Homo sapiens: one gene and its partner. The protein of the gene in region 1 purifies or fractionates together with the protein of each later gene. This does not show direct contact. Each region holds a gene or a part of one and is shown in the gene's direction. Other genes may lie near its edges. The genes, in order: SYBU and ABAT.

Region 1 (3,822 bases):
ATTGATGGGCATTTGGGTTGGTTCCAAGTCTTTGCTATTGTGAACAGTGCTGCAATAAACATACGTGTCCATGTGTCTTTATAGTGGAATGATTTATAATTCTTTGGATACATACCCAGTAATGGGATTGCTAGGTCAAATGGTATTTCTGGTTCTAGATCCTTGAGGAATCGCCACACTGTCTTCCACAATGGTTGAACTAATTTACACTCCCACCAACAGTGTAAAAACGTTCCTATTTCTCCACATCCTCTCCAGCATCTGTCCATTCCTGATCTTTTAATTACTGCCATTCTATGACTGTTTTTAAAGATGCATTCCTTTGTTAAATGTAGAAAAAATATTGGATTGAATTTTATACTAGCAACTTCTAGAAGCCTGTGTACCTCTAATTATAAAATTCCCCAAAGATAAAGCAATTCCTAATAAATGAGGTCAAGATCAAGGAGAGTTATAGCCTAAGGCTGGCCTGGCCTTATGGTTTAGTAGGGAAGAGCCCAGGCTTTGTGATCTGTCAAGCCTGAAGGGCTGGAATCCCTGGCCCTTTCACCACTTACATACTGTGTGACCTTCAGCAAGTTGCTTAACCTCCTTAAGCCTTAGTTGTTACATCCATAAAATGAGATTATAATACTTGCCTTGTAGAGTGGCTGTGAAGTTGAATGAGACCAGTACCTAAATGTTCACCTTACACGGTACCTGGCTTACAGAAGTGCTTAATAAATGATGGTTCTTAATACAAGGAACTATGGATGTCTGTTTGGGCACGTGATTAAGAAAGTTTCCTTAAAGTTGTGAGCATGTTTGGTAAGGGCACAAATCTCTTGATAGTTCCTGAAGGTGCCACCATTATCATTTGACAGAGCTTTTTATTCCCATTGAAGCACATGACTTAGAAGGAGTTACTTGAGAAGTATTAGGAATTTGGGTAAAATTTAAAGGAGTGACTGTCTTATGACTAGTGAAGAATGTTTCACAGTGGATAATGTTTTAGAACTTATTTAGGGAACATGGAACTTGAAGATTAACACATGTATGAGAAGAAACACATGAATCAGGATGCTATGATTAATGCTCTAATTTAGCAGGACCTAACATTCCACTGCATTTAGGGCTCACAGCTACATTTTTCAAGGATTTTATAAATGCAGCTTTGGATTTATTACATACTTCCACAAAGTTATTCTGTCCTCTGCATAAGTTGTATGTTGGAAATTCTGCACTGCCTACTTTTTTTTTTTTTTTTTTTGCTAACTAATTTTTTGCTAACAATTTGCTAATCAAATTGTCTGCTTGATTCTGAAAAAAAAAACCCTATCAAAATATTATGTTTTAAAACTTATTTCTTTATATTTGAATCACATGAATCTAGTTTAAGATGGAAACCCACTGCTGCTTTGCCTACTATTCCCCCAAGAAGAAAACAAAAGGATAACTGAGAAGCTATCACAGTTAGTATTCCTAGAATCTAGAGTCATATTTGCAGAATGTAATGCTGTTTACTTTAACTCTGTTTTGGAGCCCAGAGCTCACCCTGGTGAGTGTGGATGAACTCTGGGCACGTCATTTCAAACTGACAGAGCTTTGTGTACATAACTCAGTTCCACATTTATTCCTGGTATTCTCTCCCTGTAATCAATTCCTCTGTGAGGGATTTCAGGGTGAGTAGTGTTATCAGAAAAAAAGAAAAAGTTGTTCAAAACAACAACAAAAAAAAGGAAAACCCCAAATATATTTTAGAATATATGAAGGCAAACCAATATGATTATTGATTTTGGTTATGAATCATTCTTCCCCGGACCCACTTCCTGAATCATCCTCCTTCCTAGGAGACCTGTCTCTGGCTAAGGCTATAATGCTGTACATGAAAATCGAAAGTAGATATTGATCTTTTTGCTATTAACTAGATGAAAATTGAGTGGCAGAAGCATATAATTATGGGTGTCTCTGAACAACCTTTCAATCTTGAGCCTTGCACCCTGCCTGCAGATAGGATTTCCTCCATTCCTGGGCCTCTCCCTCATCTCTCTTCATCTTCCTGTGCTGTCAGTTCCCCAAGGTTTGAGTCTAATGCCTTTCTCTTCCTTTCCTACAGAACTCTGATAAACCCCACAAAGGCTTTTGAGTGCTGTGTAGGCTAAAATTGACAGCAGCAAGGCCTTTGGGGGCATGTTAATGATGCTTTAGGAGGCCGGTTGGTGGGTGGAAAATAAATGGGTTTGGTACTACAGGGAGTGTTAACGCTGGAGGCAGTGAGATAGAGAATGTAAGACATGTCCAACCAGCAGGGGGAAATCGCTCGTTTTAATCCAGCCACTCCAACACTGAGGCCAGAAGGTGTGTTCGTTGTTTAATCACGGCAGTTAAGTCAGAGAACAAGGTGCATACAAATATTAAAAAATACCATCCTTTACTAGAACAAAGCTAAAATAATTTAAAGGGATCTATTGTCATCATAGCTTCGCAACCTTCCAGTAATCCTCCTGTATTAGCTTCTCTTCTTTATAAATCATCACATTCACTCATGTAAAAGGGGCCATGCCTAGTTAAGGGAATTCTTACAATCTGGTAATGAAATTATAGAGGAAGGTGTCACCTCAAATGCAATGAAATTTAATTTGAAAATTACATTTTCAGAACTGCAAACTGGAGACTCTTTCCTCAAATCTATATCAAAAGCATTAATTATGAAAAGCGTCATATGTTCTAAAATTTTTACTTTTTTAAAAAAGATAATGTAATGAGCTTCATAAACATTTATAAACATTTATTTAATACAAAGAATTATACTTTATTTTGAGAATCTGGCTTTTCTATCATTTGTAATGAAACAAAAATTCATGATAGTGGATGGTAGCTATACTTCAGCAAAACAAATGTCAACTCAATGTTGATGTTTTCTCTACTCCACCCTCAAGTTTTTCTTATAATTTTACCGGCCTGTGAAATGAAAAGAATAGAACTATTTCCAAAGTGATCTGTCCATTTTTACCCACTTTCTGTTTTCCCTCCGCACTCCACTGCCTCCCTCTTGCTTTCCCATGGGAGCTTTGGCAAGGAACATTTAATGACTTGATATTCTATATGCTAATTTGTATGTTGTCTCTGCCTCATTTCAGAGGGAAGAAGTTGTGTGTGACCTTTTGCAATTCATTTGGGGTGTGTCCCCAAAGAGCTTTGTTTTTTTTAATCGCTTCTTCTTAGCGAAATTTCTTTGAAGATCTGCATGTGTTTTGTGCATTTCATCAGCACATGAGTGTTTTTGTGCTTGGACATCATTCTAGTCTTCAAACAGTATTCCTCACAGTTTGTACTCAGTCTTGGTCGCTATGACCTTAGTTGGAGACAGTTAAGTTTATACAGTATTAGAGGTCAGGCCCTATTTTATGTGCACAGCAAGTAGAACATTGTACATTATTAATAAATATTAATTAATGCTTTATTTTAAAAATACGTAAGGAAGTACAGTTAATAGGAAGTTAATAGAAACAAAACACCTCCTTTCCTGTCCCCTTTTAAAAAAAAAGTTTTTTGTTTGTTTGTTTGTTTGTTTAAACCAGCGTTTTGGCATAAAGTCAACCTGTCTTTTCTCCCCCATGTTTCTTGTTTTTAACACAAGAAGTGATAAAGCCCACATTGTTGGTTTGTGTTCTGGGTTTGGCCCATTGAATGTAGCCTCTATCCATTTTTCTCCCCCTTTTCTGTAAGTAGTGAATTGTGTTTGTTACTGTACCATGACCCTAGCCACTGTTAGAAAAGCCGATGACCTAGGTGAGTGTGTCAGGCACATACATCAGTCACCTGACATGGTTAGCAGCATGC
Region 2 (3,822 bases), on another chromosome or scaffold:
CACAACAGGTGCCACCACACCTGGCTAATTTTTTAAAAAGCATTTTTTTGTTGTTGTTGAGATGGAGTCTCCCTATGTAGCCCAGGCTGGTTTTGAACTCCTAGGATCAAGCGATTCTCCCACCTCGGCCTCCCAAAGTGCTGGGATTACAAGTGTGAACTGCCTCGCCTGGCCCAGAGTTCTTTATATAAATAAATGTTTCTTTGTGTCACTATTTCTTCATCCACTTAAATATTTGCTCAGCTCCTGTAGGTCACACACTATCTTGTGATCCTGGGAATACCACCAGTTCCTGCCTATCAGGAACTCACAGTCTACTGCAAAGTTTCTCAGCCTCTACACTTTTTTTTTTTTTTTTGAGAGGGAGTCTTGCTCTGTTGCCCAGGCTGGAGTGCAGTGGCATGATCATGTTTACCTGGAACCTATGAATAGGACCTAATTTGGAAATAGAGACTTTGCAGAAATAGTTAGGTTGAAATGAGGTCTTTCTGCATTAGAGTGGCCCCTAATCCAATGACTGCTATCTTTTTTTTTTTTTTTTTTGAGATGGAGTCTTGCTCTGTTGCCCAGGCTGGGGTGCAGTGGTGCAATCTCAGCTCACTGCAACTTCTGCCTCCCGGGTTCAAGCGATTCTCCTGCCTCAGCATCCTGAGTAGCTGGGATTACAGGCACCCGCCACCACACTCAGCTAATTTTTGTATTTTTAGTGGAGACAGGGTTTCACCATGTTGGCCAGGCTGGTCTTGAACTTGTGACCTCAGGTGATCCACCCGCCTCGGCCTCCCAAAGTGCTGGGATTACAGGCTGAGCCACCTCTCCTGGCCCACCTCTATACTACTGACGTGGAAGCGAGGCTGTCCTGTGCCGGATGTTTAGCAGCATTCTTGGCCTCCACCCACCAGACGCTGGCAACATACCTTCCTCCACGTTGTGACAGCCAGAAATGTCTCCAGGCATTATGAAGTGTCCCCTGGGGAACAAGATTGCCCCTGGTTGAGAATCACCGGTTAGAGGCTAAGACAGCCGTGTATATCTATAATTTCAATCAGATTGCTTGTGCCTAACAGGATACACACACACACACACACACACACACACACACACACACACAGAGGAGGCATTCAGGATGTATTTGTTGGATGTTGGATGGCTGGGGGTGTAGATGGATGCATGGATGGACAGACACAACCCCTTTGTTGGTTGGCTAGATTGATGGATACATGTGTGAATGAATGGATGAATAAATGAATCCAATTTACAAATTCCACTGTGGGAAAACAGAACGCTATTCTTCCAACCAGAGTAGCCTGCCCCTTTATCTCTGTCTAGCACAGTGTTTTTCAAACTTTAGCATCAGAATCCCCTCAAGAGCTTGTTAAAACACAGATTGATGCCCCTGCCCACCAGAATTATGATTTAGTAGAATCACCGGCGGCCAGAATGCTCCCAACTCTATTTCCATGTTCTCTAGGAATCCTGGACCAGCCCCCGACCCCTGCCAACCTTGTCCTTGTCCAGAGGTCCCGTAATCTTCACTGCCAGCATCTCCCATTTAGGTGCTAACATCTATTATCTTGGATATCAGCAACTTGCCAGCACTCTGTCCCTGGGCTGCACTGAGAATTCCTTCAAAGGTGGGACCCACTGTATTCTAGTACCTTACTACTGAAAGTGTGGTCCAGCGGCCAGCAGCATTGCATCTTCTAGGAGCTAGCTAGAAATGCAGAATCTTGGGCCCCACCCAGAACTACAGAATGTGAATCTGCGTTTTAACAATATCCCCTGGGGTGATTTGTGTGCACTTTTAAGTTTGAGAAGCGTATTTTAGACAGATCTGTAAACCCCACACTCAGAGCTAAGCTAGGGATAGCTTTGCTGATAAGTTACATTGACAGCATCTGTTACCATGTAATTGGTGCCTGAGCTGAAGCATCTTTCAGGCATTACTGGCCATTTGTACCTTTGCCTGACGTTATCTCTTGAAATGTCTACACTGGCCTCGCTTTACCCGTGGGAAACCAGAAGCCCAGAGGAGCAGTGCCTTGCCCAAGGTCACACGATGACCATGAAAGCAGAGTGGAGATCACTCTCCACTCCTTAAAGGGAATGGGATCAAGAGGATTGAAATGCTGTATCCACTGAGCAGGGCGGCACATGCCTGTAGTCCCAGCTACTCGGGAGGCTGAGGCAAGAGGATTGCTTGAACCCAGGAGTTCTGGGCCGTACTGTACTATACCAGTCAGGTGTCTGCATTAGTTCGGCATCAATATGGTGACCTCCTGGGAGTGGAGGACCACCAGCTTGCCTAAGAAGGGGTGAACCAGCCCAGGTCAGAAACAGAGCAGGTCAAAACTCCTGTGCTGATCGGTAGTGGAATTATGCCTGTAAATAGCTACTGCACTCCAGCCTGGGCAACATAGTGGAACCCTGTTTCTAAAAAAAAAAAAGAGAGAGAGAGAGAGAGAAAAGAACTGAAATGCTGCTATGATACTGAAAATATGGGGTGTAGGGGGAGCATTCTGAAGCTACTTAGGTCTGTCCTCTGAAACTGGAGAAAGGGGAGATGACTTGAAAGTGATGCAAGAACAAGAACTTAAGTTGTATTCTTTTGTTCATCCAACCAGTGTTTATTGAGTACTTACTAGACTCCAGGCATGGTTGTCTGGTATCTATAGTATTGAACAAGAAAAGCCAGGCCTCCCTTTTGATGGCTTATCTGGAGTGGACAGACGTAGCCATCTGGCATTCATTCGTCAATGAGTGTGTTCATTTATTGCATGATTTCCATGTGCTGTGTACAGTAGTAGGGGTGTGTGCGTGTCTATGTGTCTGTGTGTGTGAGAGAGACAGAGAGAGAGAGAGAGATGGAGGGAGAGACAAAGACTCAGCTACTACACCAGCGCCTCTTCTAGACTAGCCATGCGGAAACAGGCCCCAAAACAAGGACCACACAGTGAGGAGAGTGCCGAAGGTGTGTGGGAGTGAATACAGGTTCAAGCTCAAAGTAAAAAGAGGTTACCACTCCCTGTTCCTGGGGATTCTAGGGAAGAAATTTCAGGAGGAAAAGGCAGAAAAGAAGAGAAAGAGACTCTGTGCAGGGAGAGCATCATGAACAGGCCCAGAGAGTTCATAGGAAGCCGTTCCAAGAAAATCGCAGGGGAAAAAGGAAGGATAGACAGCGTATGGTGGCTCGCACCTGCAATCCCAGCGCTTTGAGAGGCCGAGGTGGGTGGATCACTTGAACCCAGGAGTTCAAGACCAGCCTGGCCAACATGGCCAAACCCCGCCTCTACAAAAAATACTAAAATTAGCCGGGCATGGTGATGCATGCTTGTAGTCCCAACTACTCAGGAAGCTGAGGCAGGAAGATTACTTGAGCCCAGGAGTTTGAGACCAGCCTGGGCAACATAGCAAGACCCCTCAAGACCCCTTCTCTACAAAAAATTTTAAAAATTAGCCAGGTGTGGTAATGTGCACCTGTAGTCCCAGCTACTCAGGAGGCTGAGGCAGGAGGGTCGCTTGAGTCAAGGAGGCCGAGCCAGGCTGCACTGAGCCATAATCATGCCACTGCACTCCAGCGTGGACAACAGAGTGAGATCCTGTCTCAAAAAAAAAAAAAAAAAGGTGGAGGGTAAAATCATGAATCTCATACAGATACAAAAACACTCAATGATTTTATTAGGCTCATTCAATGAGGGAACCAGGCAGACATTAGAACCAGTTCAAAGGAAAAGTCAAATAAAGCACAAATATGTAAAGAGTAAAGGGAGGTCTAAATAGATTCAAAACAGAGGCAAACATGGTTGGACAAGGCAGAATTTG

Evidence for each region.
Region 2: the proteins of SYBU (region 1) and ABAT purify together in Homo sapiens (affinity purification with mass spectrometry; one large-scale study listed by BioGRID and IntAct). This does not show direct contact.

Annotation. Positions count from the first base shown.
Region 1 is NC_000008.11:109,638,247-109,642,068, reverse strand, and holds part of SYBU (syntabulin), read left to right. Parts: intron 1-3,822. UniProt on the Homo sapiens protein: Part of a kinesin motor-adapter complex that is critical for the anterograde axonal transport of active zone components and contributes to activity-dependent presynaptic assembly during neuronal development.
Region 2 is NC_000016.10:8,681,117-8,684,938, forward strand, and holds part of ABAT (4-aminobutyrate aminotransferase, mitochondrial isoform 1 precursor), read left to right. Parts: intron 1-2,142; exon of another isoform or gene 2,143-2,435; intron 2,436-3,822. UniProt on the Homo sapiens protein: Catalyzes the conversion of gamma-aminobutyrate and L-beta-aminoisobutyrate to succinate semialdehyde and methylmalonate semialdehyde, respectively. Can also convert delta-aminovalerate and beta-alanine.